Linked DNA regions of Homo sapiens: all the other regions are linked to region 1. The links come from fine-mapping of genetic effects on gene expression. A gene starts in region 1. Each other region holds a variant in brackets. All regions are shown on one strand. Distances are between the middles of the regions.

What was found. PIP is the estimated chance that this variant, and not a neighbour inherited with it, causes the effect.
Region 2: its variant is fine-mapped to the expression of ENTPD4 in whole blood (TOPMed, PIP above 0.99).
Region 3: its variant is fine-mapped to the expression of ENTPD4 in tibial nerve (GTEx, PIP 0.97).
Region 4: its variant is fine-mapped to the expression of ENTPD4 in whole blood (INTERVAL, PIP above 0.99).

What each region holds. Positions count from the first base shown.
Region 1 is chr8:23,454,723-23,460,137 of GRCh38, reverse strand. ENTPD4 (ectonucleoside triphosphate diphosphohydrolase 4) reads left to right here and starts at 2,491. Exons shown (of 13, transcript NM_004901.5): 1 at 2,491-2,581. ENTPD4-DT (ENTPD4 divergent transcript) reads right to left here and starts at 2,367. Exons shown (of 5, transcript NR_186533.1): 1 at 2,149-2,367; 2 at 784-924. RefSeq lists a silencer at 2,278-2,957 and an enhancer at 4,823-5,324.
Region 2 is chr8:23,419,177-23,424,558 of GRCh38, reverse strand. No RefSeq gene overlaps it. Among named protein-coding and RNA genes, the nearest start is that of LOXL2, 18 kb to the right of the region's middle. RefSeq lists an enhancer at 1,837-2,337. The variant C/T (reference allele first, on the strand shown) is at 2,225.
Region 3 is chr8:23,340,677-23,346,091 of GRCh38, reverse strand. LOXL2 (lysyl oxidase like 2) reads left to right here. Exons shown (of 14, transcript NM_002318.3): 4 at 4,889-5,100. It overlaps LOXL2-AS1 (LOXL2 antisense RNA 1), which reads right to left. Exons shown (of 3, transcript NR_038323.1): 2 at 4,943-5,066. Among named protein-coding and RNA genes, the nearest start is that of LOXL2-AS1, 7.2 kb to the right of the region's middle. The variant C/T (reference allele first, on the strand shown) is at 2,502.
Region 4 is chr8:23,431,500-23,436,914 of GRCh38, reverse strand. It overlaps ENTPD4 (ectonucleoside triphosphate diphosphohydrolase 4), which reads left to right. Exons shown (of 13, transcript NM_004901.5): 11 at 1,438-1,523; 12 at 2,437-2,598; 13 at 3,761-5,415. The coding sequence ends at 3,989. Among named protein-coding and RNA genes, the nearest start is that of ENTPD4, 23 kb to the left of the region's middle. The variant C/TGC (reference allele first, on the strand shown) is at 2,384.

The DNA of each region.
Region 1 (5,415 bases):
CAGCCTAGCTCCAGTTTTTGTTTCTCTTGTTAACAAGTGAGAATGGGCCCCTTCAGAGCCTCTTTGCTGTTTCCACTGACTGAAATACTATTCCTTCATATAGGCCCAGAATTCTAATAAATTCCCATTCATTGTGCAGGTGTGACCTCAGACAGCGTTACCTCAAAGAAGCTCTCCCTGATGAACCAGACCAGGATGGTCCTCTCATGTACTAAGTTGAATAGTGACCACCCCCAAAAAATTCATGTCCACCCAGAACCCATGAATGTGACCTTATTTGGAAATAGGATCTTTGCAAATATAATCAAGTTAATATGAGATCATAAGATCACACTGGATGAGGGTGAGCCTTGAATCTAATATGGCTGGTGTCTTTATGAGAAGAAAGAAACTTGGAGACAGAGACACAGACACACAGAGATAATACCATGTGACAACAGGGGCAGAGACCAAAGTGATGCATCTACAAGCTGAGGAAGGCCAAGGATGGCCAGTAGCCACCAGAAGCTAGGAAGAGGCAAAGAAGGATCCTCCTCTAGATCTTTAGAGAGAGCACAGCCCTGCTGACACCTTCATTTCAGGCTTCTACCATCTAGAACTGGAAGACAATAAATTATCTTGCTTTAAGCCACCCAGTTTAGGGCAATTTGTCACTGCAGCTCTAGAATGTAATATGCCAAGTTACACGTTTCCATACTTTCCTATATTTTTCTTTCCTAGCTCTTATCAGACAATTATTACATATAAATTATCAGGAAATATGGATGGTGTGATAATACTTACTAGTCTGGCTTTTCTTCTCTCTCTCTCTGAGATGGAGTCTCACTCTGTTGCTCAGGCTGGAGTCCATTGGCGTGATCTCGGCTCACTGCAACCTCCACCTCCCGGGTTCAAGCAATTCTCCTGTCTCAGCCTCCTGAGTAGCTGGGATTACAGGCACAAAAAAGCCACTATGTCCAGCTAGTGTTTGTATTTTTAATAGAGATGGGGTTTCACCATGTTGGTCAGGCTGGTCTTGAACTCCTAATTTCAGGCAATCCACCTGCCTTGGACTCCCAAAGTGCTGGGATTACAGGCATGAGCCACCATGCCCGGCCTAGTCTGGCATTTTAGTAGAGCCCTCCTTAAGGAAGACTAACATAACCCCAACCAGTGTCTCCAATGGCAAAGATTTTGAAAGGCAGATAATTTCGAAGGAGACTGTCCTTAAAATCACAGTATGTCAGTGGCCAGCTTTAGCTTCTCAATGCTAGCCTTGGGTCACAGGGTTTTCTAGTGTGAAAATTATCCAAACGAGTAATTTCTTATAGCAACAGATTGTCAAAAAAAAGACACTGATGCGCAAGTCATGTGGGAGTCTGAAACATTGGTTCTGCTCTCCTCTGCCTCCAGGGGGTCTTGGCCAAGTCACTCAACCTCTCTGGGTTCCAGGCTCTTAACTGTAAAAGAAGGTGATTGGGGCTACACAGTAGAGTCCCTTTGGCTCTAACCTTCTGAGGCTTCATGGTTTCTTCCGTTAACAGTAGCTGAATCCAGGAAGAGGAGGTGACCCAGGCGGGTGCTGGACCAAGAAGGATTCTGTGTTAAGATGTAGAACTGCCAGTTCTGTCTATGCTTGTTTTACTTGATAAATGGAATGGAGTAGACGTTTCTAGGGCTCTTGTTTTTAAAAATCTTTTAAAGTGGCTGGATTGCTGGTCACTTCCTATCTCTGGGCCACAGTGCATTCACCTGTATACAAGGTGGAAGAAAGGATGGAACCCGGGATTCCCAAGGTCTCTTCCGGCTCTCAAGTGCAAAGTTCTGTGTCTTCAAAGCAGTTTATTGCTAAGCCAGAGAGCTAAGAGAGCTTAGCCTTGTACTAAGTGTAGGTCATGGGGTCAATCTCAGGAACACCCTTCGCTTTATTTCTTCTCATAACCATTGCGTGTGTTGGGGAGGGCTGGGGCAGTCTGCCTCCCCCAACATAGGCACTAACATATGCCATCGACGGGCAAGAATGAAATCCTGGCTCTACCTCTCACGAATCAGGTGGATCTCAAGAGAGACTGAATAAGTGTGAGCCTCCGTTTCCCCATCTGTGAAACAGGGAGAGTTACCGGCAAAGGTGTAAATGTCAAGAGTTGAGCAACAATGCCTAGTCCTTACCAGGTTTTCAAGCGCTATTTTCCATAACCGTTAGGAGCGCTAAGGAAAGATAAACTGCGGTGTCCTAAGTACGCTGAGGCTCGCTGACGACCAGACGAGCACCACGCCACAGTACTGGGTGCCTCCGTGCTCCCACGTCCACATTTCCCGTGCACAGCACACTGGCGTGGCCGCGCGGGTCCACGGAACAGCCCAGCGCTCGGACGCCAATCATCCCGCATCAGGCTCCGCCCCCCAGCGCTCAACGCGCCCCTCGGCGTGCGCGCTCCCGCCGCCAGCGGGCGCGCTCCGGGCGCAGGCGGTGACGTGTTGCCGGCGGGGGCCGGGCGGGGGTGCGGCTCCAGGAAAGGAGCGCGGCCTCCAGGAAGCCGGCTGGCCGTGATGCTGCCCACTGGTGGTCCCCCGCTCCCGGGGTCCCCGGCCGGCCAAGCAGGTGAGGTTGCCTTCCGAGCGTGGGTGAGGGGAGGGCGGGCGGCCGAAGGGGCCGGCGAGTGGGTTGGAGTGCGGGGGCCGGCGGCGCGGCGAGCGGGCCGCGGACGAGCCTCTCTGCCCCAGGCCCCCACAGCCGCCTGCTTAGCCCCGCGGACCGGTTCCCGCCTCCCCTGCCGCGCGGCCACATCCGAGCGCCCCGGGACCAACCCCTGTGAGCCCTGGCGGCCGGCGCGCTCCCCCAGCCCCTGGCAGGGGACACCTGGCGGTCGCGCGCCTCGGGTGACCGCTCGGGATCCCCCCCTCGAATGGGCGGAGCTTGACCGGGCAGCAGGGATGCTGCACCCGGGACCCAGCCGGCCCTGCCTGCCGCTTTAAATGATGACATTCGCTCGTCTTGTCGTTTTCGCTTTGCTTTGCTTTTGCCAGATTTCATGTTAGATTTCTTCTTGGAAAAATGGAGCTTATTGGGCAGTAAAGTGATGATGCACAGCATTGTTTCTGAACTTGAGTAATGCGCGGACCCCTTTTAAAGGAACAATTCTCTCATGGTCTAGAATGTGTCCCAGAACCCTTAGGGTGCTTCAGACCCCAGTTAGATGAACCCTAGTGCAGAGCGTTTTCAGAGAACACTTATCACGAAGGAAACTAAAGAGATCCTTTATGATTCAGGAACTTTCAGGCTAGAAGGTAAACTAGAGGTAATGGAAGAATTCTAAATTAGACACTCAAAGCCCAGGCTAATTTCGCATTGCAGTCTTTGTTGTCTCCTTTTTGTGATGAAAATACCAAATTATCCAGCTTTAGAGAGGCCTAAAAGAGTTATATTATTTGTGTTACCATATATTTGATGTTTTTGTATCAGGTTTGTTAATTCTGTTTGACATAGTAGAATTATAAAATGGAACACTAATTCGTGTAGTTGAATCGTTTATTTCTCTGTTTACCTTAACAGAGGTCTTGTAGTTGTTGCATGTTGAATCTATGGCTTATATTCTTCTACCTCTAATAGGAAATGTGTGACTGAGGCCCTTGAGGATATAGTCTAGGAAGGAGACAAAAATGAACATTTATCTAAGGATTTATATTCTCTACGTATTTACTCAGCATGTTTATTTAAAATAGACTACTCATGAATAAAGAGACGATTCCAATTGTAAGAAAACATCAGGATGTGTAACAGGTTAAATCTTGACAAAGAAACATGTTGACTTGTGCCTTGAAAGAAGTGTAGTCTTGAGAGGAGGACACGGTGGTGGCTCGGAGGAAGTGCTGTTAGTAAATGCCTGAGGCAGGCATGGAGACAGCTTGTGTGGGAGAGAAGAGAGAGACCTGCTGCACTGGAGCTGAGAGATGGTATCTGGGACTGATGAGAGGATAGGTTGGTGAGATAAGGTGGACCAGTTGATGGATAAAAGGTTTCAGGTGCCACACAGGAAACTTGGTGTTGATCCATGGCCTTCCAGAAGGTTCTTAGCTGATCATATTTTGAAGGCCGTGTTTTACAAAGAGTTGCTTGTAAAGTGTGGCGTGCACAGTGAAGGCAGAAGGTGGGTGAGTCGCCAAGAGATCTGTCTTGAGGTAGTGGTGCCTGCTGTGGTCATCTTAGATATGAGGGATATCTGAGGAAGAATCGACTGGCTTGGAGAATGATAGAAGATTGTCAACACCGGATGTGGGAATCAAAGCTGAGAACCAGGTAATCCAGGTCAATGGGGATTGGTGGTACCCGTCTTAGACCTGGAGAATTTGGAGGGTGGTATTAGAGTTTGCATTAGAAGATTTCAACCCTAGAGTTGGACTAGTTGAGCTTGCAGTAACAGGGCTTCAATGAGCTTGGAACGTGGAACTGGAACTTGAGGAAAGTCAGAGTTAATTCAGGAAAAGTGACCAGAAAAAGACTACTTAAAATGGGAACCAGAATTTTGCAAATTAATAGAGGGAGGAAGAGGTTAAGATTTTATATTGAAAAATAAAATTAAAATGTGTAAGATAAATATTGAACATACAGATCATAAATGCAACTACATACATATCTTCTTAAAGAATGAATCAAGTTGTCTTCATGTATCTTTTGTCACTACTGAGTAACGGTGCCACCCGGCAGCCTCCACATCAGCCTCTCACTCTCAGAAAGACAGTTGTTTCTTGCAAAACGCTGCCGGAATGGTTGAGAGCATCTTTAATTTTTCCAGGTTCTCTTGAATCCTTTGATATTCAAATCATTCTTTTCTGAAGTACCCTTCCCTGTGGTACCTTTGCTTATTCAGAAGCTGAGCTCTCCCAGAGGCTGACTTCTCTGTGATTTTGTTTGCCTGTGATTTGAGTTCACTAACATCTGTTTCCTTGCATCTTGTGTTTTTCCACCAGAGGAACCATTTCCCTTTGTGGTTGATTTGCATTGTTTTCGTCGTTATCTGTAGAACTGTCAGTGAGAGACTGACAAAGACATTGACACCTGACTGTAGGCTTTATTCCAATAATGTTCAGCCAAGTAGGGCCCCACTAGCTGAAATCATGAGAATTAATGCATCTCTCTGGTGATAGGTCTAACACAATTTAGGCTTTTTTAAAACATGTCAGTTTTATGTGGTATTACTGAATTTGCCTCCCAGTGCCCTGGTGCGAAGATTCTTAGCTAGAAGGACAATTGGAGTTTACATTTGAAGATCAAATTACCATTTAACTCTTAGGCAATAATCCATTGTACTTTTGTCCTGAGTTAAAATTACAGTGCTTCAGCAGTTATAAGCTGTCCTATTTTCTCTGCTTTTAAACACAAGCTTTGTAACTTAAAATATCTGTTTGTCCTTTTGATCAAAATCATCACATATCTCA
Region 2 (5,382 bases), 36 kb after region 1:
CACACCTCTCTGACCGCAGTCCTCATTTCTCCGAGACTCCGCTCCAGCCACCCTGGCCTCAGGGCCCTCTCAGGACTTTCCATCCCCCTCACCCTGCTTCACTTTCCCCCATGATGCTTATGACCTTAGATCTAGTACACTCTGTTTTCATTACGTTCTATGTACGACTCTCCCTATTACCCTACTAGAACATGAGCCAGGGGGCAGGGGGCTTTTGTCTGTGTGTTTTCATGTTGTATCCCCAGGCACAGGATCTGATAGGCGGTAGACATTCAATAAATATCTGTGGAATGAATGAACAAGGCAGGATCCTTAAAGCGAGGGGGAATGACCAGGCTGAGAACTGAGAGAGCATGCTAAACTCCACAGTCTGGCCCCAGGGATGGGGGCAGGAAAGATGGCACCACCTCCTTGCTTTATTAGAGGGAAAGAAGGTGCTTCTTGTGCAGAACCGTCATCATAACAGAAAGATAGCTTATTACACGCCAGGCACTGTTCTAGCTCTTTGTTAGCTTACATAATCCCTGTATTAGTTCGTTTTCACACTGCTATAAAGAACTTCCCAAGACGGGGTAATTGATAAAGGAAAGAGGTTTAATTGACTCACAGATCAGCATGGCTGGGGAGGCGTCAGGAAACTTACAATCACGGCGGAAGGTGAAGAGGGGGAACCAAGACACCTTGGCAGGTGGCAGGAGAGAGAATTAATGCAGAAGGAACTACCAAACACTTATAAAACCATCAGATCTCCTGAGAACACTATCACGAGAACAGCACAGGGGAAACCACTCTCATGATTCAATTACCCCCACCTGGTCTCCCCCTTGACATGTGGGGATTGTGGGGATTATAATTCAAGATGAGATTTGGGTGGGGACACAAAGCCTAACCATGTCAGTCCCCAAAATGACACCATGAGGAGGTGCTTTGATTACCGTCACTTTACAGGTGGAGAAACAGATGTGGAAAAGGCACACAACTTGCCCAAGGTACCGAACTAGCCAGTGGTGGGGCTGGGATTTGAACGCAGGCAGCCTGGCTCCATTCTGTACTCTAGAGCTGCACTGTCCAGTATGACGGCCACTAGCCACATGAAACAGGCCAATCTAAACTGAGATGAGCTGTAAGTATAAAATATACACCAGATTTCAGGCCGGGCACAGTGGCTCATGCCTGTAATCCCAGCACTTTGGGAGGCCAAGGCGGGCGGATCACGAGGTCAGGAGATTGAGACCATCCTGGCAAATATGGTGAAACCCCGTCTGTACTAAAAATACAAAAATTAGCCAGGCATGGTGGTGGGCGCCTGTAGTCCCAGCTACTCGGGAGGCTGAGGCAGGAGAATCGCTTGAACCCGGGAGGCAGAGGTTGCAGTAAGCTGAGATCTCCCCACTGCACTGCAGCCTGGCAACAGAGTGAGACTCTGTCTCAAAAAAATATATATCTATATCTGTCTGTCTATATATAGATATAGACACACCAGATTTCAAAGACTTCATGTAAAAAAAATATGAAATATCTCAGTTTCTTTACATTGGGTACATGAGACATGACAATATTTTAGGTATATTGAGTTAAATAAAATATTATTGGATTAACATCACCTGTTTCCTTCTACCTTTTTAATGTGTACACTAGACAACTCTAAATTGCCTGTGTGGCTCACAGTATATTTCCGTCAGACGGAGCTGCTCTCGGTACTTGCTTCTCAAAGTGTGGTCCTTGAATCAGCAGCATCAACATCACTGAAGCCTGACGGAAGTGCTGGATCTCAGGCTTGGTCTCAGACCTCTTGAATCAAATTCTTCATTTTGCCAGCCTTCCAGGTCACTCATAATGCATGCTCACATTTGAAAAATGCCGCTTCAGACCAGGCAGCAATTTTTTTCTCTAAAGGGCCAGATAATAAACATTTTAACTTTGCAGGCCACATGACTTCTGTCCAAAACTCACCTCACTGCTTCTGTAGTATGAAATGAGCCAGAATATGCACGTGAATACGGATTCCACTGTAACCTGCACGGACCTAGGGGGACTGAACAAAGCGGGGCAAACACGGGAATAAAAGACAAGAGACAAAAGAGTATATTTTGAAGAAGGGGTCAGGGGGTACCTTGCCCCTAGTGGACAAGGGCCCTGAGCTTTATACAGCCCTCCTTATTTATTAGGCAAAAGAGATAGTGAGAAGCGGGGTGGAAGAAGGGGTCAGCTGCTCAGTCTAGAG[C/T]AGGCTTGCAAGACTGCATTCCTCGAACAACAGGCTAAATGTTGCAGTAGATAACCTCAGCGCCAGGGAGTGATTGCCTCCAGCAAACCTTCTGTCGGCAGGAGCAGTCGTCAGTTTTCTCACATCCTGCATTCATGATAAACAGTTTGCTGTTGGATCATATAGCCTCCAGTGGAATGCTGCGTTGGTCACATCCCATGGGCCTTCGGCTCCCTGCATATCCCCCTTTCTGTTTATGAATTAATTGAAAAAATGTAAGGCCAGGCTGGGCAGCTCTCATTCTCCGATTGGCAGTCCATCCGATTTTACAGACTATAAACAGAAGACAGAGACGAAACAACATTATTCCAAGAACTACATATAAGATGTTAATGTGGTGCCTTAGATAGGTCCAAGGGTTGAGGCTCTCCAGGCCTTGCTGGAATTTGGTCCCGTCTTCTAAAGAAGGCTGAAATTCTTGAGTTTGCCTATTTAAATCAAGAATTTTGTTTTGTAATTCACCAATATCAAAGGTGATGTTGGATGTGAACGCTCCCTGCAAATGGGCTTTCACAAGGTCCCACGGATACTCACTTTGGTTGTATTCTAAGTTGGTTACACAAATATGAGTGTGATTAAAATGACAGCGCAATTACTGCTGCAACTGCAAGCTTTGTACTTGTGCCCCTAACCACAGAACCGTGGATTTCAGCATTGCCACTTCAGTTTGTAGCTCAGTGTTAATTTTATTCTGAAGTCGCCACGCTTGGTCAGCTGTGCGCGTCCAGTTCTCCACGTACTGAGCTATTTGAATAGAATTATGCAAAGCTACAGAAGATATCACAACAGAAGTTACTAGCATGACCAAGTAAACAGTAGCAAAAATTATCATGCCTAAGGCTCTACGGGCACGATGAGTCAGCTGAGTTAGAAGTTTCACAAAATGCAAAGCAGGTGTGGCAGCCCAAGGCTCAGACAGATTAACAGGAATCCCTAGCCCAGGGATACCACCTAAAATCATCACAGTAGAGATATTATGTGTTTGCAATGTGCTATGATTAGTGCAGTGATATAACTGGCAAGATTTACAGGTCAATTGGGTATTGTTTACCTGGAGCTGGTCCTTCTTAGCTGCCAAAAAGACATAAGGATTAAAAACACAAACTGTAAATTGAGTGATGATATTCTTTACAAATGTAACCTTAGAACTGTGTTGTGACTCCGGTCGGCCTTCTCTCCGTCTTTGCATTCAGGCTCAGCTGACTCATGGCTCATACCGGGACCGGGTCCATGGTTGGCCACCCTGGGTTCCTCCAGTCTCCCATTCCATGGTCGCACGCACCTTGAGGGCACCCACACAGTTCATCCATCTCCTGCAAAAACACAAGTATACCCTCTTCCCCACATTAGTAAATCCACTGGACCTTTCCATTGGCCTTCTTCCGGGGATTTCCGTAACACTTTCGGATAAACTTTCCTCTTTTCCTCTAACACTTGCCAATGTCTTTCTGCTGGAGTCTTTACCTTCCATACCAGGAGTCAGAAAATTTAAAGTAAGGCTAAATGTAGTTTTGATTGAGGTGGTAGTTGGTCTCCTATACCCCCTTTTTGTTTTTTCAATATGCGTTGTAATGTTTGATGTGCCTGCTCTATAATGCCTTGTCCTCTAGGATTATAAGGAATTCCTGTTTTATGGGTTATAGCCCAAAGCTGTAAGAAATTTTGAAAAGCATGACTAGTATAAGTGGGTCCATTGTCAGTTTTTAATTGTTTAGGTATCCCCATGTGAGCAAATGATGACAGACAATGTGGCCATACATGACCAGCTGTCTCACCTGTTTGGCATGTAGCATGCAGCATATGAGAATAAGTGTCTATAGTCACATGAACGTAGCTAAGCTTACCAAAGGTTGCTATGTGTGCAACATCCATTTGCCAAATTTCATTTGGAGCCAAACTTCGTGGGTTACAGCCTTCTACAGGTATAGTTCCAGGGACATGCTGGCAAGTAGGACAGGCTTGTATTATAGCCCTAGCTTGGCTATGAGATAAATGGAACATGCGAGTAAGGGTGGAAGTATTTTGGTGCAGAAGTGCATGAGATGCTTGAGCTTGCCGAAACACAGAACCAATCAGTTTGTCTGCTTTCTCATTACCTAGAGATAGGGGTCCAGGAAGTTGTGTGTGAGAGCAAATATGAGAAATATGAAAAGGAGCTGCATGAGAACGAATAACTTGTTGAAGTCTTAAAAATAAATTAAGCGGCTGGGCATGGTGGCTCACACCTGTAATCCCAGCACTTTGGGAGGCCGAGGCAGGTGGATCATGAGGTCAGGAGATCGAGACCATCCTGGCTAACATGGTGAAACCCCTTCTGTACTAAAAATACAAAAAATTAGCCGGGCGTGGTGGCGGGCGCCTGTAGTCCCAGCTACTCGGGAGGTTGAGGCAGAAGAATTGCGTGAACCCGGGAGGCGGAGCTTGCAGTGAGCTGAGATTGTGCCACTGCACTATATCCTAGGCAACAGAGCAAAACTCCATCTCAAAAATAAATTAATTAATTAACTAATTAAGCAGTTCTGGGTCTAGTGTACTTTTAATTGTGGCAGTTTCTATGCGACTGGCTACATTTACAACATAAGCTGAATCACAGACAAAGTTAATAGGATCTGAGGCTGTGAGCTGTAAAACCTGAATGACTGCAATTAGCTGTAAGCGTTAAGCTGAAACACCAGAGGTATCTAGCTTCTCCTGTGTTAGGGGCACAACTGTGAGAGCATAAGTGTCTGCTATTGAGGCCACCCAGTTTGTGGTGCTTTGTCATGAGGGCCCTAGGAGGCGAATATACTTACCAAGAGCAGGGGACACTTGAGCTCAATAGGAAAGGCTGTGGAGCTTTCAGAGGGGACCGTACAGGAAAACGCGGTGGGCAGAATTAACAGCACGAAGGCAGGGCCTACAATGTGGAAAAGCACAGACACAGTTGTGCAGGCTGGAAGTCAAGTTGAGGAGTCCGCAGGGCGACGCTCCCTCTGAGACCTTGCAGAATCCTTCCTTGCCCCTTCCTGGTTTCTGGCGGTGACCAGCGATCCTCAATGGTCCTTGGCCTGCAGCTGTGTCACTTTTATCTCTGCCTCGGTCTTCACGTGGCATTTTCCTCTTCTTATAAGGACACCTGT
Region 3 (5,415 bases), 110 kb after region 1:
ATTTTATTATTTTATTTTATTTTTGAGACGGAGTCTCGCTCTGTCGCCCAGGCTAGAGTGCAGTAGTGTGGTCTGAGCTCACTGCAACCTCCGCCTCCCAGGTTCACACCATTATCCTGCCTCAGCCTCCCGAGTAGCTGGGACTACAGGCGCCCGCCACCATGCCTGGCTAATTTTTTGTATTTTTAGTAGAGACAGGGTTTCACCGTGTTAGCCAGGATGGTCCCAATCTCCTGACCTCGTGATCCGCCTGCCTCGGCCTCCCAAAGTGCTGGGATTACAGGCGTGAGCCACTGAGCCCGGCTGGGGCTGAATTTTAAACTAGCAAGTCTAGACTGCCTTTCATTTAAAAAAGAAAAAAAAGTGTGTGTATATTTTAATATTTCACACTTTCTTTTCACTTTTGGGGCTGAACTCCTGGGGCAAAATGTATCCTAACACTTGTGGTTATGGAAGGGATTCCACAGCAGTGAAGTAAAGAGAGAGGTTATGTGTGTGGGCGTGTTTTCTAAGAGGTCTAACTCAGTCTCCATGAGCTGGTTAGCTAGTGTGAGCACCGAATGTGTGCCCCAGAGGGCTTCCCTGCCTCCTCCCGCTGGCCTGAAGACAAGAATGCTGGGAGCCCAGCTCTCCCCTCACGTACACAATCCAGTCTGACTCACTGCCCCTCGACATGGGGTGCTGGGCTTCCAATGTGCACAGCACCAGCACCCTTCAGCTGGTTGAAGGGGACACCCAGAATTCTGAGCTCCAGGCCCTGCCCTGGGTGAGTCACCCTCAGTACCAGGCAATGTATTGGACACAGGCATGAGATGAGGACTGCTCAGAGACCAGTGGTCATTATGAGCCTGGAGCACGGGTTTGGGGGTCAGAACTCAATTTGCATACTTGTTTACCTACTTACTGGCTGTGTGAACTTGGATAACTTCCAAAAGCTTGCCAAGATTTATCATGTTTTTACCTCTAAACAGGTGGACCATGAGCCATCTTGAAAGCTGCCATGGGGATTGAATAATGGAGTGGATGTAAAGTTTTCTGTATGGAACCTAGCCTGCAATTAATTGGTGTTTGATAAATGATGCCCATAGCTGTCATTATTCAAAGCTGACACAGGGCGCTGTGGTTGGGGTGTAAGGAGGAAGCCCAGCAAGGCCCAAGGAGGGCAGAGACTGCATTTTGTTAAATGAATGCATACGGTAGATTTGAGCCTTAAAGACTGGAAAGGCTTTGGTTCTTTGGAGGGAGAAGAAGAGAAGACGGTCCAGTTTGAAGGAATGAGTGCGAATGGTGTCCTGACTGTTTTCCTAAGGCCTTGCAAGGAACACGATCCTTTCAGAATTTCCTCCACCACAAGACACATAAACAGATGCACACTTTATACATACAGAGACCCATGTGACATAGACACATACAGGGAGAGTGCACAGAGATCCACATGACACACCGGCACACACACACAACCCTGTCATGCATACATCATCATGCACACAGACACACAATCCCAGAGACACACAATCCCAGAGACACACACACAGAGACATATACAGGGGCTCATATGACACATGGACATGCAGACACTCAGAAACACACCATCATGCATATACCCCCGTGCACACACAGAGACACAGAGATACACACCACACACAGACCATCAAGCACACACCACCATGCACACACACAGACACAGAGATACACACCACACACACACAGACCATCAAGCACACACCACCATGCACATACACAGAGATGCATAAACACGTATGCAGTGAGTCGGTGGAAGAATGAGGATAATGACCCCCGGTGCTAGCCCTTTCTCTTCTCCAGGCTGCATTGCCTTCATCGTGGAGCCCCCGGGGCTCTCCCCACCAGCCCTATTCAGCGGAGGAAACTGTCCCGCATCATCGCAGGAACGAGAGCAAGCTCCCTTGGCGTTTGGGTTGGTGTGTGCTGGCCTCAGGCCCGCGTAGCTCTTTCCAGCGGGGTCTGCTGAGCTCCTCCAGCCAGGCCTTCTTCCTCCTCCTGTGGTGGCCAGGTGCTGGGGGTCACACCTTCCCTGCAGCGAGCCTGCACTGCTGCCCAACGCAGGGGAAAGGATCTGTGAACTGAAGGTCAGCCCGGGCCGCCTGCCCTGTGAAGTGCAGTCTTGATGCTAGGCAGTAACTTTCCTTCTGGGCATGACAGTTACACACTGGAATTCCAGCCCAGCCTCCCGAGGTGGGAAGAGACAGAAGAGGGCCGGCTTGTGGGCTGGGTTTAGACCTCAGGCCCTTTCTTGGCTCACCCCTGTCCACGTGTCTTGGTGGCACGGGTCCTGCGGCCTGAATGAGGGCTGTAAAGGATCCAGGATCCAGGCTGGAAGGCATAATCCTGCCCCTGGCAGCATTCCTTCTGCTGTGGTGGAAAGGAAACGGAGCCAAGTGCCATCACTCCAGGCCCACATACTTTCCACCGCCTTGCAGGACCTGAGAGTAGGGCCTGGCTGTGGACCCTGAAGCCCATGG[C/T]GAGGAGACGTGAATCCCTGGGCACCCAAAGAATGGTTCTGTTCAAACTCGTGGTTCATTTGCATCTCAGTTGGACAGGGCTGGGGCAGTCGGGGTGCTGGGTTCCTCCTGCCTTCCAGCCCGGCTTGGACCAGCCCCACCTCCCAGTCCCTGGCCCGCCCACAGTGTGTGTGTCTTCCACTGCACCTCGGGGTGGCCCTAGGGAGGGAACTGGAGTCAGCTGGTATTCTCATCTGTAAGGTGGGGATGGCAGTAGCTATCAACCACCTCATTACAGCGTGCGAGGGTTAAGTAGGAGAATGCAAGGAAGACACTTGACATAGGGCTGGGTACCTGGTGCATGCTTTGCGGTAGCTGTTGCTATTATATACTGCAATTCATGGTGTTTGTGGATCCATGTGAAGCTGGGGACAGTGAGGGGGCTGGAGGCATAAGTGGAATCAGTCCTGAATGGCCGAGAGCATCTTGCTCAATATTAGGGTATTACATAGACAAAGAGGAGCTAGTCAAGGGACAAGGTTAGATCTGTGTTTTAGAAAGAGCCAGCTGCAGTGCCTCATACCTGTAATTCCAGCACTTTGGGAGGCTGAGGTGGGAGGATGCCTTGAGGCCAGGAGTTCGAAACCAGCTTAGGCAACATAGTGAGACCTCGTCTCTGAAATATATTTTAAAATTAGCTGGGCGTGGTGATGTACACCTCTACTTCCAACTACTTGGGAGACTGAAACAGGAGGATCGGTTGAGCCCAGGATATGGAGACTGCAGTGAGCCCTGATCACACCACTGCACTCCAGCCTGGGCAACAGAGTGAGACCCTGCCTCAAAAAAGAATAAAAATTAATTAATTAAAAGAAAAAAAAGGCCGGGCACGGTGGCTCATGCCTGTAATCCCAGCACTTTGTGAGGCCAAGGCGGGCTGATCATGAGGTCAGGAAATCGAGACCATCCTGGCTAACATGGTGAAACCCTGTCTCTACTAAAAATACAAACAATTGGCCGGGTGTGGTGGCGTGCGCCTGTAGTCCCAGCTACTTGGGAGGCTGAGGCAGGAGAATGGCGTGAACCCGGGAGGCGGAGCTTGCAGTGAGCCGAGATCGCGCCACTGTACTCCAGCCTGGGCGACAGAGCGAGACTCCGTCTCAAAAAAAAAAAAAAAAGAAAAAGAAAAAAGAGGCTCTTTGGTGGCTGGCCCTGTGGCAGACAGACGGAGGCAGGAACTCAGTCAGGGACTGTCGCAAGAGCTGGTGATGGCTGGCCATGAGTGATTTAGGGGGGAGCTTCCATAGAGTTTGGAGCCTGTTATGGCATGTCTTGGAAAGGCATTAAAAAGTGCCACTGTAACTCCAGGGAACCTCTTCTCCTCTCATTCAGCTTGGCCTCTTGAGGCCCCCTCTCCTGCCCGATCCCTGGGACTCAGGTCTAGGTGGTACAGGGATATTTCAGCTCCACGTCGAGGGAGGGGGAACACCCACGTGGCAGGGAGGCAGGCGCCTTCCTCTCGCCCATGCCCCTCCAGCCCTCCTCCACTTCCTCCCAAAGGGCCCTGCCAATGAATCTTTCCAACCCTGACCCCAGCCTCTGTCCTTTACTCCACAGATAGATGGGTGGGGTGGGTGTGGGAAGGGAACCCTCTAAGGGGCTCAAAGTGTCTCCTTTCCTTGCTGTGTCTCCTTTCCTTGCTGCAGCCAAATAGTTGTCCCCAACCCTACCTCCCTGATCCCTGCCAGGCAGGTGTGAGTCTCTGCACACAGCACGCTCAACACCAGGAATATCTGCTTCGTTTCTCTCTAAGCCCTGCTTCTTCTCTCAGGCCTCTCTAAGGATTTTTGAAGAGAGGAATGCCCACCCCTGGGGTATGAGGTAGTCTGCAGGGTGGCACCACCAGCTTCAGGACATCTGGGGGTCCTCTATCTGAAACTCAAGTTTTACTGAAAGATGAATCAGGGAGACACACACAGACACACTCACAGGCACATACACACATACTTTGGAGTGAAATGCAAAATCCGCATTCAAAGAACACTTTCTCTCCTGTGCATTTATTTCGAGGCCTGTGCAGGAGGAGGCTGCTGCCCTTTGCTCTCCAAGATCTTAGGTTCGGATGTAGGAGAAGCCCATGGGGTCTCTGAGTCTTTTCTGACTGTTCCAGGTCACCCCACTCCCTGTTGGGTCCTTTCAGCCTCACTATCTCCCATGCATAGCGCTTTCTAACTGCAGCTTGGGCCGTGTGCCCCTCGGGGTTGCCCAGAGCTCACTGCAGGGCCTGAGGGCACAGGCAGGCCCGCGGCAGGCCTGGCCCATAGTCGCTAAAGAAGTACTGGTTGCCTGGTGTCTCTGCAGCCAGGCCAGTAGGGTAACCCTCTCCTTCCACGCCTCTTTCTTCCCAGAACCTGAATATCCAGGTGGAGGACATTCGGATTCGAGCCATCCTCTCAACCTACCGCAAGCGCACCCCAGTGATGGAGGGCTACGTGGAGGTGAAGGAGGGCAAGACCTGGAAGCAGATCTGTGACAAGCACTGGACGGCCAAGAATTCCCGCGTGGTCTGCGGCATGTTTGGCTTCCCTGGGGAGAGGACATACAATACCAAAGTGTACAAGTAAGAGGACTGCACCAAAGGGGTGGCTTTGAGGGTATCCGCCCTGCCTAAAAGAGTTAAAAGTGTCCGCCCTGGTGGTGGCCTTTCCTTGGCCAGGCATGGCCAGGCAAGCTGGTGTCCCTGCAGGCAGCCTGCACAGAGCCCCTGGGCCGGGCCAGGCGCCAAGTTCAAGGGTGCCCCGTGGCATCCTTACCCTTAAGGAACTCACACATCTACAGGAGATAGACCCTAATCCCTAGAGTAGCTTGTGGGAAGGCGTATTGCAGAAGTGAGATGCAAGCTGCCCCCAGCCCAGAGAACCCCAGCTCAGGGTGC
Region 4 (5,415 bases), 23 kb after region 1:
TCTGCTCTGCATGCTTTTGAGAGACCAGTGTGGACGGTGACGGGTTATGTCCTCCTTTCACATTGACAGGGAAAGACGGAGTATAGAAGGCTGCACTGCAGCATGTTGGGATCCTGTTCCCTTTGCTTGGAGGGAGGTTGAATAGTCACAGCAGAAGTAAAAAATGTACTGTACGCTGACTTCTGCACCACTCCATTAGCTACCCTGGTCATCAGTTAGCTCCAAATTACAGTCTTTTATGTCATTTTTGTGCTTTGCTGCATGTGACAATTCTCCTACTAGCCTTCCCCCTCCCTGACCTGCCAGGATACTCCTGTTCTTGTGTTCTCTCTGCCTTCCTGACACCCCTTAAACTTAGGTGATGCCAGACTTCCACACTTGGCCCCTGATCTTCAGGTTCTTGGATGGTCTCATCCATATTCAGGGTTTGCTGCTGCCTCTCAAGAAGAGGCTCCAATCCTGACCCCTGCCCGGTTGCCTGCTAGATTCCACAACTCCAGACAAACCCACCATCCTCTCTCCATTCTGTTCCTGTTCTTCTCTCGGTTAATGGCATCGCCAACCATCCAGTCCCCTTCCCTGCAGCCTAGGAGTCATGGACTTCTCCCTCTAACCATTTCATCTCTCCCTATACACCCCAGTGTAATCAGTCACAAGTGTGGTATTTTATCTTCCAAGTATTTCTCAAACCCATCTCGAAGCGCAGAGCACTGTATGCTGTAATCATGTCAGACAGCTGGCTTCCCTCACGCTCTCCGCGACTTCTCTGTGTCCATGTCCATGTTCCTGAAGTGCCTATGCCGAGCCCGTTCCCCAGGCCAAGTGCTTTTTCCTTGTGCTCCCTGTCACACACCCAGGCCCATCTCCCACCTCTCAGCAGTGTCTTCATCCTTTAAATAGAGGTCGGGATGGTAGCCACCTCGAGGAGTTAAGTATTACATTGAGAAGACACACTTACACAATGCTCAATAAAAGTTATTATAACAAATAACTTCAAGAAAAGTGGGATCTCTTTCCCTTCTGTTAAAGACAAAAACCTTTTGCAGTTATTATCCCAGTAGCTTGTACTGTGTCCTCCACAGATGTAGGACTTAGTTTGAAGTAGCTAAAATACTGCTTCACTTTTCCAAAAATGTATGCCCGTACCATGCAGTCATGGAGGGAGAAACTAAACAGTTTTGGAGAGGTTGGTTGTGGACAGCAAAGCTCTCTTTAACAATACCCTGGACAGAATTTTAAGGCAAGGCATTGTGTTTGCGAATCAGTAAGTATTCCCTGAGTGTTTGTGTGTCTTGCCATTTGTTGTATAAGTTAAGCTTGTGTGTTTCCTAATGGGAAGGATATGCTTGTTACAAATATAAATTTGGTAAACCATTTTTAAAGTGAGAATTTTAATAAGCCTTTACTAGTGATCTATTTTGGTGAATTTGTTTTCAGGATTATTGTGCAACAAAGTGGTCCATTTTGCGGGAACGCTTTGACCGAGGACTGTACGCCTCTCATGCTGACCTCCACAGGCTTAAGTAAGTACTAGAAGGTCAAGCCCAGGGCACTCTTAAGAACCATAATGCAGTGTTGGCCCCACTGGCTTGCCACACCCTGGCCTCAGTCCAGCTTCTTCTCACTCACTGTTCTTCCCATCTACCCTGGGCCCCTTTCAAACGGGACAAATACTTGTGCCCAGACATATTCCGTATCTTTTTTGTTTTGGTCACTTTTACTGTCTCTTACCCCTGAAATTCCCCTGTTCATACCTTTGCTTGTTCAAGTCCTGCCCAGACATCAGAGTCCAGCCAGAGGCTGTCCCTTTCCAGTCTTCCTCTGTCCCCTCAATCAGACTTCATCCCTTTCTCTGAGTCTCAAGAATTCATCCTACCTCGCCAATGCATTTATCATGTTCTGCTTTTTCTGTTGCTTTTTAAAAATCCCCTTTCATTGTAAGTCACTTAAGTGCAGACACTGTATCTTACTAATTATTGTATCTTATTACTTGCTTAGCACAGTGCTTGGCAAAAAATAAACCTCTAATAAATATTTAGAGTCATAGAATATCAGAGCTGAAGAGAACCTTCCTACCATCTCATTTTATAATAAACTGAGGTACAAAGAGGTTGGAACCTGTTCAGTATTCATTCAAGGAGTACATGGTGAAATGCCAGCTGGAAAAGAAACCTATCTCAGGGATATATGACATTATGCCGAGACCGGGTTCATGCACTGATTGATTTGACAGGTGAACTGCTCCATGTTGTGGGACCAGGGATGTGAAGCAAGTACATCAACCTTGAAACGCGCGCAGTTGGTTTGGGAGAGCCGGCCTGAGGAAGCCCCTGCCCCAAGGCTGCCCACAGAGGGAAGGATTGTGTGTGTGTGTGTGTGTGTG[C/TGC]CATCTTGACAGAGTGAGTCAGTCTGACTTGCCTTTGTGCTTGCCGTTTGTAGGTATCAGTGCTTCAAATCGGCCTGGATGTTTGAGGTGTTTCATAGGGGCTTTTCGTTTCCTGTCAACTATAAAAGCTTAAAGACTGCCTTGCAAGTTTACGACAAGGAGGTTCAGTGGACCCTTGGAGCCATCCTCTACAGGACCCGCTTTCTACCATTAAGGTAGGGCTGTGAATTTGGGAACGAGAATCAAAAAGATGCTTTTCTGCAGTTACAGCACCTCATGGCAGCTGTGGTCTGTGGCTGTTTGGGGCATTGCTGTTAGAGCCGGCCACGGCAGAATTGTAGGGACAGTGACGTTTGCTTTTGGTCTTGCCCCCTCCCCACAAGTGCTTCCTCCCTTCTCACCCTACCATCCCGTAATACACAGCACTCCTGTCCTACTGCCCTGTGTTTGGTTATTCTCAACTGTCTGTTCCCCAGCCCCGGCAAAAGGGTCAGTTCCGGGGTTCTTAACCTTTATGACTCAGGCCTCTTCTCCAAATACTGTTTAAATGCATGTATAAATACATAGGATTACAGAAGAAACCATCATATTGAAATAATACCAAAATATTACAGAAAACAAGTTTGTGATACTGTAATATGTGTTCTTCTCTATTAACACATTAAATAACAGGATCTGGCAGCAGAATTAGCACTTTCTGTAATTTCAGTGTAGTCAATGAGCGTCAATGATATTTTGAGGCATTGATGATACCATAATGGGACATGAAAGATCTGTGATTTTCGTTAGTAACAAAGTTGCAGGTGCTGCCAACGCTAATGATAGTTTGTTGTCTGCATTCATGGTCAAAGAAATGCTACATCTCAGTCAGCGCTTGGGTAGAACAAAGATGTGCGTTTTTCCCCATTCACGTTTGCAGATCTGCTGTCAGTTGACCTGTGCTAAGAACCTGAGTTACCTGATAGATGAGACATTTGCTCTTCCCCCCACCCCCTCCATTTAATTGAGCATTTCTCAGCAACCCTTTTAACTGGGTTAACTGTAAAAATGGTGAGTCATGGGTGTTACTGATCACAAGCATGCAGTTTGTTTACATGTTGACTTCTTTGTATCAGCGAAACCTTCACGGCTCTTCTAAATTCCTCTGATTTTGGTTGCCCAAATTATAATGACCGACTTCAGAGTATACTTTCACATGTTATCTCACTGATACTTAGAAGCCCCCTGCATTGGGCTGTTCCGTTCTCCATTTCAGAGGTAGGGTTGCAGTTCCTAAAGTGCAGCTCTGGGGCCTGGGTCCCGCCGTCCCCCTGTGCACCCTTTCCACCCCTTTCCTTGCTTACTGTCCTGTTTGTTGTTTGGTGTTCACATGGGCAGAGACATCCAGCAGGAGGCCTTCCGAGCCAGTCACACCCACTGGCGGGGCGTTTCCTTTGTCTACAACCACTACCTGTTCTCTGGCTGCTTCCTGGTGGTGCTGCTGGCCATCCTGCTGTACCTGCTGCGGCTGCGGCGCATCCACAGGCGCACTCCCCGGAGCAGCTCGGCCGCCGCCCTCTGGATGGAGGAGGGCCTTCCCGCCCAGAATGCCCCGGGGACCTTGTGATCCAGCTCACAGCTCCACGAAGACTCAAAAGGAAAAGCCATTTTTGCCTCAGGGTTTCTCCTCTTTATTTTCCTGTGGTTTTGTTTTTTCTTTCCCTTTTTTGTTCCTCCAAACAAAAACAAAATGCAGGCCGAGCGCGGTGGCTCACGCCTGTAATCCCAGCACTTTGGGAGGCCGAGGCGGGCGGATCATGAGGTCAGGAGATCGAGACCATCCTGGCTAACACGGTGAAACCCCGTCTCTACTAAAAATACAAAAAATTAGCTGGGTGTGGTGGCGGGCGCCCGTAGTCCCAGCTACTCAGGAGGCTGAGGCAGGAGAATGGCATGAACCTGGGAGGCAGAGCTTGCAGTGAGCCGAGATCACACCACTGCACTCCAGCCTGGGCGACAGAGTGAGACTCCGTCTCAAAAAAAAAAAATGCATTGTTTATAAGCCCTGCTGTCTAGAAGTATTGCGTTTAGCCATTTTGAGTACAGCATTAAATTGAGGAGTGGGGAAGAGGGAAATTCACTTGATTTTTGCTGCACAGGATATCTGCCAAAAATAAATGAGATTTCTGGGGTTTCTCTAAGGAATGTTAAATTTAAACACATGCACTTTGATACTGGAGGGAGGTGGAAAGATGCATTCTGTCAGTGGAGAGGGGACTGAATAGTGATGCTTTCATAGAACCAAAAAACTTACTGCCTGAAATGATAATCCTCTTTTTTCTCTATCTTGAAAGCTCTAACCTGAAGAGGGTGATTTTTTTTTTTATTTATTGTTCAGGTCTGTTACTGTATATGTTTTCTTTGCAAATTTAAATTTTTTAAACCATTTATATCCAAAACAGAGAAACATGGGCACCAGGAGATAACCATTTATAAAAGTGATAGTGAACTATCGACTACAGCTTTGTGCGAGTGTGTGAAAAATCCCAAGAAACCAGCGTGAGGGGAGGCAATGCTGGTTCTTTAAAAACACACACTTCAGAATTTACTGGTACATTTTATTTAGAAAAATCCTCGTTACTGTTATCTTTTCCTGACCGCAGGTAATTACGCTCCTTATTCCATATTTCAGTGGCATTAGAACACTGTGGTTTTGAAAGAATTGGAAATTCCTAGTTTCACCAGTTTCGGTTTTATTGGAACTAGAGCACATGCCCACTTCTTGCTCAGTATTCCTCAGTGTTTCTGCTTAATCGTGCCTCAGTTTCTTCCAGCTTCCAATTGGTGTTTCCCCCACCCCCCTTAATTAAAAGTCATCTCAGCTTTTAATCGTACTGGGAGACCCCATGCACAGCCTGCCGAGTCCTCTTCCTAACCGCATTGACTGAGGCTGTTGCTGGCAGCACCACTGTAAATCCAGAAGGGAAGAGTCTGCATCCAATACAGGAAATAAATTCACATTTTGAAGGAAAAAATTCGACAATTTAAGCCAA